3 separate regions of the Homo sapiens genome follow, and all the other regions are reported to be linked to region 3. The links are microRNA targets in miRTarBase. Many come from high-throughput screens and were not tested one by one. Region 3 holds a microRNA gene; each other region holds the end of a gene's coding sequence. Distances are between the middles of the regions.
The links. The annotated mature microRNA hsa-miR-3922-5p reads UCAAGGCCAGAGGUCCCACAGCA and lies in region 3 at 986-1,008, opposite strand. An mRNA with a match to its seed (bases 2 to 7 or 8) in the 3' UTR can be bound and repressed. Matches are read on the target gene's strand: a 7mer-m8 pairs with bases 2 to 8, a 7mer-A1 pairs with bases 2 to 7 and ends in A, and an 8mer does both.

Region 1 (3,076 bases), 97 Mb from region 3:
TGGGGAAGCGGGGTTCTGTAGGGTCAAGACTGTGGAGCACACACGGTGAGGACTCCTGAGGAGGGGCAGGCCTGGGTGGAGGCTGTTCGCAGAGCTGCAGTGAGCCGGAGGGAGAGAGGTTCAGGCAGGGAAGGGGGTACACAGGGGTTAAGGGGACCGAGGGAAGTGTGGTCCCTGAAAGAGAGGCTGGGATGTGTGCAGGCCATTGATCCCTTCTCCTCTCTGTTCCTGCCCTCCAGTCCTACCAGAATCGGCAGTCCTGTGTGACGGGGGCTGTTGGGGGCCAGCAGGAGGATGAGGACAGCAGTGACTCGGAGGTGGCCGATTCCCCCAGCAGCGACGAGAGACGCATCATCGAGACCCCCCCACACCGCTACTAAGGCCTACACCTCTCCCCACGCAGAGGGGGAATTCTGCCCTGGTGAAACAGACACTCCAGACATGGGAGAAGGACTTTCTGGGAACACAGAGACCAAGAGGGAGAGAGGCTTCAGAACCAGTCCTCCTTTCATTTCAAAACCCCAGCGGGCCCTCTGGAGTCCGCCCTGCCCCTCCCCCGGCCCCCCATCCCTCACTTCTGGGCTGTCATGCTCCTGGTGTGCCCCTTGCACTGGGGCTGGCTGGGTTGGAAAGTGGGCTGGACTTCAGCTGCCTTTCTACCCCCAATGGCAGCTGCCCCCTTAGCACTCACTGTGTTGGGGAGAGGGTGACGATTGCAATGGCTGGGGCTGGGGCTGGGGGTGGGATTGAAGGAAACCCTCTCCTCTCCCCTTCCCTTCTCTCTCCTGTCCATGGGAAGCTTTTCCCCCTCTGCAGGGCTCCCTCAGCTGGACCATCGTCCCTGCTTCTCTTATGATCGCCCCACCTCATTTCCATTTCAGTCTGGGGACCCCATTTCTCCCTCCTTTCCAACTTCCTTCCTTTCTTGTCCTGTTTCCCTTCCTGCCCTTGCAGTCCTGAGGTCCTGCAGCCCCGGCCCCTCCTCCGTGACCTGGTGTGGCCAGGCTGCGGGGACGGGAGGGGACGTGGGGGCCCCGGGTGTACATATATAATGTATATTTTTTCAATGTTGTCGTGAGTGCAGCCCATGTTCCTGCGTGCAGCTCACGGCCTTGTGTGTATGTGTGTGTGTGTGTGTGTGTGAGGCATCGTCATGTCCTGGGGCAGGGGCGGGGGGTTGGGTGTGGTGAGGGAGGGGACATATCCTAGGGTTTTCAAATAAAACAATCAGAAAAAAAAAAAAAGCTCTGTGAGGCGCCTCCTGACTGCCTGGTCCTGTGTGGGTGTGGTGGAGGCTCTGGGGCCTCAGGGGCTGTTTGGGTCTCTGCACAGAGCTGAAGTGAGGTGGGCAGGGCTGGTGATCTTGGGGGCCTGACCAGGTAAGTCCCCAGGATGCCAGATCACCTGGAAAGTAAGCTGGGGGCAGATGGTTCCCACGCCTCCCTTCCTTCAGCACCCCCTGGAAAAGTACAGAAGATTCAGGGAATGCTATGGACACCTGGGCAGATGCCCAGTGCCTTGCAGGGGTGCTGCCAACCCCGCCCCACAACTTGGAACATTTTGCCTGTGCACATGGGCTCCCTGCTGGGCGGCCCCAGGGAGAAGGCAGGCAACCCTGCTGTTTGTACCAAAGGGATCTGGAGACTGTTCCCAGGCTGACCCTTTCCTGCTAGCCAAGGCTCAGACCCAGGGGATGTCTGCCTGCCTTGCCCATGTCCTTGTGGCTGCCTCACATGGCTGCTTAGTGGCCTCCGCCCTCTCCACTCGGGCCCAGCCCCTGGCCTGACAGCAGGCAGAGTCTGGCCCTTCTGCAGCCTTTTGGGCCACTAGTTCTCTGACCCAGGTCTTACTTAAGCCCCAGGTGATAAAGGATGATAACCCCAAGGGGTTATTTCAGAAGAGTGAACTGCTGGTGGGAGCATCCCTCTGGTGCTGTCCTGGCCCAAGAAATACCAGGGATCCAAGTCTTAGTTCCTTCCTGCAGCATGACAGAGTAGGGCATCCTTAGGCTCTTCCTGGTTCTCTGCGGCTGCCTGTAGCACAGTTGGGGTGGAGGTGGGTGCTCCGCCTGACGCCCGTTCTGACATCCACCGGGTGCCTTGTCCTTGCCCATGGCCGCAAACTCCCAGTTGCATGTTGATGCCTCCATATTTTTATCTCCCACCTGAATCTCTCTCCTAACTCACATTTGCAACTACCTATTGGCATATCCACCTGCCCTTCCTGTGCCTCAGACTCCACCTTTCCCCGACTTCTCTGTGACCTATCCCTATCACCTTTCACCCATTCGCCTATGCCAGAAATCTGAGAGTCAGTCTAGATTCCTCCCTCTCCCTCAACCCCATGGCCAAATGGTGATGAAACCCTGTCGTTCTTACCCCTTAAAAATCTCTCCAATAGGTCTTTTGCTTTCTATTCCCCTTATTGCTGCCGCCGCCTTGACCTGTACCCTCTGTGTTTTTGCCTGGTCTGTGGCAAGAGCCTCCCACCTGCCTCCCACCTGCCTCCCACCTGTCCTCCCACCTGTCCTCCCACCTCTCCTCCCACCTGCCTCCCACCTGTCCTCCCGCCTGCCTCCCACCTGCCTCCCACCTCTCCTCCCACCTGCCTCCCACCTGTCCTCCCACCTGCCTCCCACCTGCCTCCCACCTGCCTCGCACCTGCCTTCCACCTGTCCTCGTCTCCTATGCCTTGCTCTACTCCACCCCGTCCTCAACTCTGGATCTCAGTGGCCTTTCTCAAGTGCAACTCTGGTTGGACCACTCTCCGGTAGAGCAACTTTCCTACCTCCTTGTCAGGCCTAGGTCAAGTCCTGACGCCTTAGCCCCTTAACCAGGTGGGGCAGGTCCTGCCTTCCTCCTTCTCTGGCCTCTTTGCGGCCACCACCCCTGCACCCCTGCGGTGGGGTCACAGAAATCACATATGCTTCCCACACACACCCTGCTTTCTCGCCTCTGTGTCTGCATGTACTGTTCCCTCTGCCTGGCATGTCCCTTACCCATTGTGTGCCTGGCAGTCTTCTACTATCACTGAAGACCCGGTTCAAGAGTTGCCTCTACCAGGAGTTCTGCTGTGC
Region 2 (3,076 bases), not on the chromosome of region 3:
CTCCTCCCACTTCCTGCAGACATATTAATATTCTTCCTCTTATAATTTTTTGTTTTGTATTTCTGTTAGAAAAATTTATTTTCCTACTTCTCACATCCCTGCTCAGTGTATTTTGTTCTTGTAAGAAGTCATGGGTAACTGAGAGTATCACATACTATCTGTGGCTTCACACGTGGAAGATGGGAGGCTCTGGAAGGAAGAGGGGATTGCTGACCCCTTGGCCTCTCCCCACTCCTTCTCTCTGTCTCTTCCCTCTCTCCAGGGGGTGACATCCGTTCACCACCTAGGAGGGGAGCTCCTTGGACCATACAGCAGACGTTGTCTGGGTGACAGATATGGAGATGTTCAGCAGAACAGCCGTGCCATGAGCATAGGACTGACATCTTCCCCCTGTGGTGTCTCCTTCTGCAGGTGCCTTATTAAGTGGCTGGAGGTTCGTAAAGTGTGTCCCCTGTGCAACATGCCAGTTCTACAGCTGGCCCAGTTGCACAGTAAGCAGGACCGTGGACCCCCTCAGGGGCCCCTTCCTGGGGCAGAGAACATTGTATAGCTTACCGCAAGGATCAGACTGTTGCTGGACACGACGTCTGTGTGGAGCCAGGAGGAACACATGTGGTGTCTGTATGGCTGCTCTCTACCTAGGACACCAGCTGCCACTTCTTTTGCCTCATGAAGAACTCTTGGGCCAGCCAAACTGGGAACCTAGGTGTCTGGGTCTTGTGACAACCAAAGCACTTTGACACTACCCCCTGCCGAGAGAAGAGGAGTGGATGAGCCTGCGGGTTTGCCTCAAGAAACTTCATGAGGGTCTCTTACTAACTCCATTACACTCTCTCTCCTGGAGCCTCATCTCCATGTCAAGCAGGAGGGTAAAGAAGGGAACTAAGAGCAGGTCTTTCAAGCCACACCCCCACCTGCGGATGGATGGGTTTCTCTGTAGGCCATGCAGGCCTTTGTCGCAGCAAACCTTCCCAGCAGCCCTTGAGCCAAGTAAAACCAGCACAACCAGCCACCAGTGGTTGGTGAGGCAGTGCCCACAAGGCTCATGTTGTATGCCTTTGATAAGGCCATCTTGGCTTTGAGTAGCAGTGTTCCTCGTCACCCATTTCCCCCTCAGGATTACAACACCTGCTATCAAATCATCTAAGCTGAAAACATGAGATGCGCTTGGAAAGGCCTAGTCAGAAGCCATTTCCTCTTATCATTTCCCTCTCCTATGCACCAGTAAGGCCCGTCCAGAGCCCCAGCAGGGAGTGGGCCCTGAGTCCACACTGTCCCTGAGTGATCCAGGAGGCTGCCCACATCCCCACATGTGCACTGTGGTTCCAGTGTAGCTGCTGTGAGCCCACTGCCACTGCCTCAGAAGGGAGCCACTGTGAACCTCTCGAGTGGCTCCAAAGAGCAGTGGCTTTTTGAGAATGGCCCATACTTCTGGCCCGGCTGGATGAAGGGAATGCCGACCCTTTGGCCTCTCCCCCTCCTTCCATCTCTTCTCTCTCTTGCCCTATCTCTCTTTCTACTTCAGAAAAAAAAAAAAAAAAAAAAAAAAGCCTGTCATTCACTTTTTAACACTTTATCCCAAATAAGATCCCTGTGTAATTCTGAAGCTGGTGATCCACTTGGAATTGTAGATAGTTTCAGGAAGCTCCTGCAGGGCTGTCCACCGTTGGTGTGTGCCTCAGTATTTGGACTTCCGAAACTGAAAGTGAAAGTGTCTTTATAGGAGAGAAACGCATGCTGCTCTTTGGCTCTTTCTGTCCAACTTTTCTAGAAATGACTCAAAGTCCATTAAGATTTGTGAATATTGTATAAATTAGCTATGGAAAGTAGCAGGTCAGATGGAAAATTCTTTTCCACAGCCCTGCTCTCCGCCTCCCTCCATCTTAGGAGCGCCTGCCTCAATTCCTCGTCAACTGCTTTGCTCCACTCCATCCCACAGGTGTGAGTGGGGGAAGTTTTTCATTAGGAATACAGTCTGCGTGACATGGAGAATGGATGGAGGGAGCTTTGCTACTCTGCTCTTGGCATGACTCCAGGATTTTTTTCTGGAATCCAACCTCTGTCCTCTTAGGAGAAGGAACCTGTCCTTGGTTCAGATGGCTGGGCATGAGGAGGAAAATTTCCATTAGTGTAGAACAGTGCTGGACAGAATCCGGTTTGGAAAATTACAAATCCAGTTGGTCAAAATAGGCCATTTCCTATGTGTGACCTATTCGTGGTATGCCAACTGGACTGCTTCCTAAACAGGACGAGGAAAGTGAGGAATATTTTTATATGAAAGCCTTAGCCTGTCTGGCACCCATGAAAAAAACTATTTATGCACTCCTACTTTCACCGTCTTTTTGCATTCTCTATTTGTAGCACAACAGAGTTGAATGCCACAAAACACCCCGTTTATAGTGAGCTGTTTTCAGTGACCAATATCAGAAGGAGGCTTGCTTCTGGACTAGCCTCACTAATTGCCAGCAGCCACCATTTTCCATGGAATGGCCTTGGGACAGATGTCACCTCTGTTATGGGGCTCTAATAGGAAAGAGAATGTTTTTTCCCTTCCTATGATCAATACTGCAAATTATTGCTGCTCACAGCTTTTATAGGATTCTCCCAACTGAAAGTTGCAGGCTTTTTCTGTCCCTGTGCATCAGTACTAACAAAAGACAGCCTCACCAAGTCTGTATATTTGAACAGAGGCAAGTTAATTCATCCCCCCGTGTCAGAGCCACAGGCATGTTGAGGGGGTTGATACGTAGCACTGGACCAGGGCGCAAAGCCCAGATAGTTCCAGCCATGAGAGGAGAGCACAAGAATGCTCTGCACTCTGCACTCAGCACCACCTTGGGTCTGCTTTGCCCAGATGAGGGACCACTAACAACCTTCTCAGCACATGTGAATGTGGACTGGTTTTAAAATGCATTCATTCTGCTAGGATTGGGCTGGAAGCTGGAACAGTGAGAGTACTTTTTCTGCTCCTAGTCATCTCCCTTTCTCAGCGTGACATCCTCCTGCAGCAAGCCTAGTATCACTAGCAGTAGTTCCTGCGACTCTTAGCAACACAACCCGAATATTTGCTCCCTGC
Region 3 (3,076 bases):
TCTGACTGAGCAAGAGAAATGGCAGGACGCAAAGTGCTATAATCTGGATGTTTGTGTCCCCACTAAAATTCATGTTAAAATATTAACCCCCAAGATAATCATTTTAGAGGGTGGGGACTTTGGAAGGTGATTTGGTCATGGGGGTAGAGCCCTCTTAAATGGAATTAGTGCCCTTATAAAAGACGTCCCAAAAAAGACCACTTACCCCCTCCACCATGTGAGGACATAGCAAGAAGGGACTGTCTATGAACCAGAAAGCAGGGCCTCACCAGACACCAAATCTGCCAATGCTTTGGTCTTGGACTTCCCAGCCTCCAGAACTGTGAGGAATAAATTTCTGTTGTGTATAAGCCACCCAGTTTATGGTATTTTGTTGTAGCACCCTGAACAGATTAAGACACAAACCTCAAACATAATCCTCCTGGCCAGTGGGGTATGCTGCCCACCCACTGAGAGCATGAGAGACGGGAAGGGAGAAGAGAGAAAGGGAGAGTAAGGGAGAGAAGGGGAAGGGAGGAGAGGAGATGGGAGGGGAGAGGAGGGGAGAAGAGGGGAGGGGAGGGGAGGAGGTGCCAGGTATTAAAAGATTAAACCACCTCATCCCTAACCCCATTTTGCAGGTAAAGAAATGGACGTGCAGGATAGAAGGTGATCTGTCCAAGGACACACTGCTGGCTATAGGCCGAGTTGCAGCTAAAATGAAGATCTCCTGATTCCTGGCCTCATCCCTTTCTCTTTTTGCATGTGATTTACATACAAATATATATAGAAAACCGAGACAAGTTTTATTTTAAAAGTACTATCCTTACTATGTGTGACAAACTAACATTTTCTATTGTTCTTTTATGAACTACTAGTCACAACTCATTAAATCCATTTTACAACACACCCGTGGGTCATGGTGCATGCTTTGAAAACGTCTGACTCAGATATCTGGAAAGAGTCAAGTCAAGGCCAGAAGTCCCACAGGTGTGCTTTCCAGCCCTGCTGTGGGACCTCTGGCCTTGACTTGACTCTTCCTTTAAGTTCAATTTGAGGGTGCTTATGAATGGAATATGTTAAACATTGATAAAGAGAACTCATGGCTTCCACAGCTAAAATTTCCCTCCCACAATGTTCACCATCACAGTGGATGCCACCATCATGCCCCTAGCTGTGACCAAACAGTGAGGAATTTTCTTAAATTCCCTTTTCTGTCTGCTATGCCCCACCCATCAGCATGTCTCTGTCCTCACCGCCCTGGTACAAGCCATCATCGCCTTCCCCTTGGGCTATGACAAAAACCTCTTAACTGGTATCCCTGCTGCCACCCTGGCCTCCCTACTCTATTCTCTACCAGCGGCCAGAATAATCTTCTAGAAACGTAAATCAGATCATAACAGCCTTCCTGCTCCAAAGACCTGCCACCATCTTAGAACAAAATCCAAAGTCTTTCCACGGCCCAGAGGCCCCCCATGATATAGCCCCGCCTGCCTCTGCCCCTCCTCCACCATACTGGTCATCTTGCTCTTTCTCCAAAAAACCAAGCATGAGCCTCAGGGCCTTTGCACTCACTGCTCTGTCAGCCTGGAGTCCCTCTCCCAACACCAACAACTGTTCTCTTCTTTACTCTGCCCTCTGACCGCATCATCAGGTCCCCAGAGAGAGCTTCCCTGGACACACTGTCTCCCATGGCCTCACTTCCTCTCTCTCCTGTTCCTCCCATTCTTTGCTATATTCTTTTTTTTTTTTAAGACAGGGTCTCGTTCTCTCACCCAGGCTGGAGTAAAGTGGTGCGATATTGGCTCACTGCAACCCCCACCTCCCATGTTCGAGCAATTCTTGTGCCTCAGCCTCCCAAGTAGCTGGGATTACAGGCGTGTGCCACCATGTCCAGCTAATTTTTGGCATTTTTAAGTACACAGGGTTTCACCATGTTGGCCAGGCTGGTCTTGAACTCCTGGCTTCAAGTGATCTGCCCGCCTCAGTCTCCCAAAGTGCTGGGATTACAGGCATGAGCCACTGCGCCCCGCCTGCCATATGCTTCTTCAAGGCATTGATTCTCTCCTGTCTTTTTATCTTAAATGCTTTATTGGCTGTTGTCTGTTGCCACCACGAGACCCTAAGTTTCATGAGCAAAAGGACTTGGACTGTCTTGTCTATCACAATATCCTCGGTTCCTAAAAGGGGCCTAAATTCAGGGCTGAATGAATAAATGAATGAATGGAAGTGCCTTTCCCAAAAGACAGGAAACTAAACCGTTTTGAAATACAGTCACCCCAGTCCAAGGTCTTCTAAACTTTCCTGATAAGAGTCATCCGAGGTACTTATTTAAAAAACATATATTCCCAGCCCTTCTGAATCAGATTCTCCTACAAAGGGGCCTGGGAAGCTTCAAGCTTGATGAGCACCCCAGGGGATTTGTATCTTGGAAGAGTCTGGGGATGCTGGATCAGCTAGACATGAGGAACAGGTGCGCACATAGACAGCGCACGTGCAGGCCATCTGGAGAAGAGGAGGGGGAGAAACTGTGCCAGATGGGGCCAACGAGGCCAGGGGCCTGGGTGTAGGTACTTACAAGGGTCATGCGGCACCTAATAGCCAAGGGACGGGCCAGCTAGGGTGAGGCATCTTCATTTATTTATTTATTTATTTATTTAATTTTGAGACAGAGTCTCGCTTTGTTGCCCAGGCTGGAGTGCAGTGGCGCCATCTTGGCTCACTGCAGCCTCCTCCTCCCGGATTCAAGCAATTCTCCTGCCTCAGCCTCCCGAGTAGCTGGGATTACAGGCATGTGCCACCACGCCCAGCTAATTTTTGTATTTTCGTAGAGACGGGGTTTCACCATGTTGACCACGCTGGTCTTGAACTCCTGACCTCAGGTGATCCGCCTGCCTCAGCCTCCCAAAGTGCTGGGAACTTTAAGTCATCCCAGAAAAGGATTTGAGGCCAAACCGAAAAAGCATTCATTTGATTCTGTAGTCAAACCAGAACCCTTGAATAAGTTCTTCAAGGCAAGAAATAATACAACTGCAGTTTTGCTTTTTTGTTATTGTGATAAAATACACATAACATAAAATTTACCATTTTGACCACT

Region 1: the mRNA of CLSTN3 is a reported target of hsa-miR-3922-5p. Seed matches in the 3' UTR shown: 7mer-m8 at 1,109-1,115.
Region 2: the mRNA of RNF24 is a reported target of hsa-miR-3922-5p. Seed matches in the 3' UTR shown: 7mer-m8 at 2,489-2,495.

Annotation. Positions count from the first base shown.
Region 1 is chr12:7,157,702-7,160,777 of GRCh38, forward strand. It overlaps CLSTN3 (calsyntenin 3), which reads left to right. Exons shown (of 18, transcript NM_014718.4): 18 at 240-1,244. The coding sequence ends at 380. Among named protein-coding and RNA genes, the nearest start is that of CLSTN3, 29 kb to the left of the region's middle.
Region 2 is chr20:3,931,537-3,934,612 of GRCh38, reverse strand. It overlaps RNF24 (ring finger protein 24), which reads left to right. Exons shown (of 6, transcript NM_001134337.3): 6 at 412-3,076. The coding sequence ends at 550. Among named protein-coding and RNA genes, the nearest start is that of MIR103B2, 16 kb to the right of the region's middle.
Region 3 is chr12:104,589,577-104,592,652 of GRCh38, reverse strand. MIR3922 (microRNA 3922) reads right to left here and starts at 1,020; the gene lies at 937-1,020. All of the region lies in intron 1 of CHST11 (carbohydrate sulfotransferase 11), which reads right to left.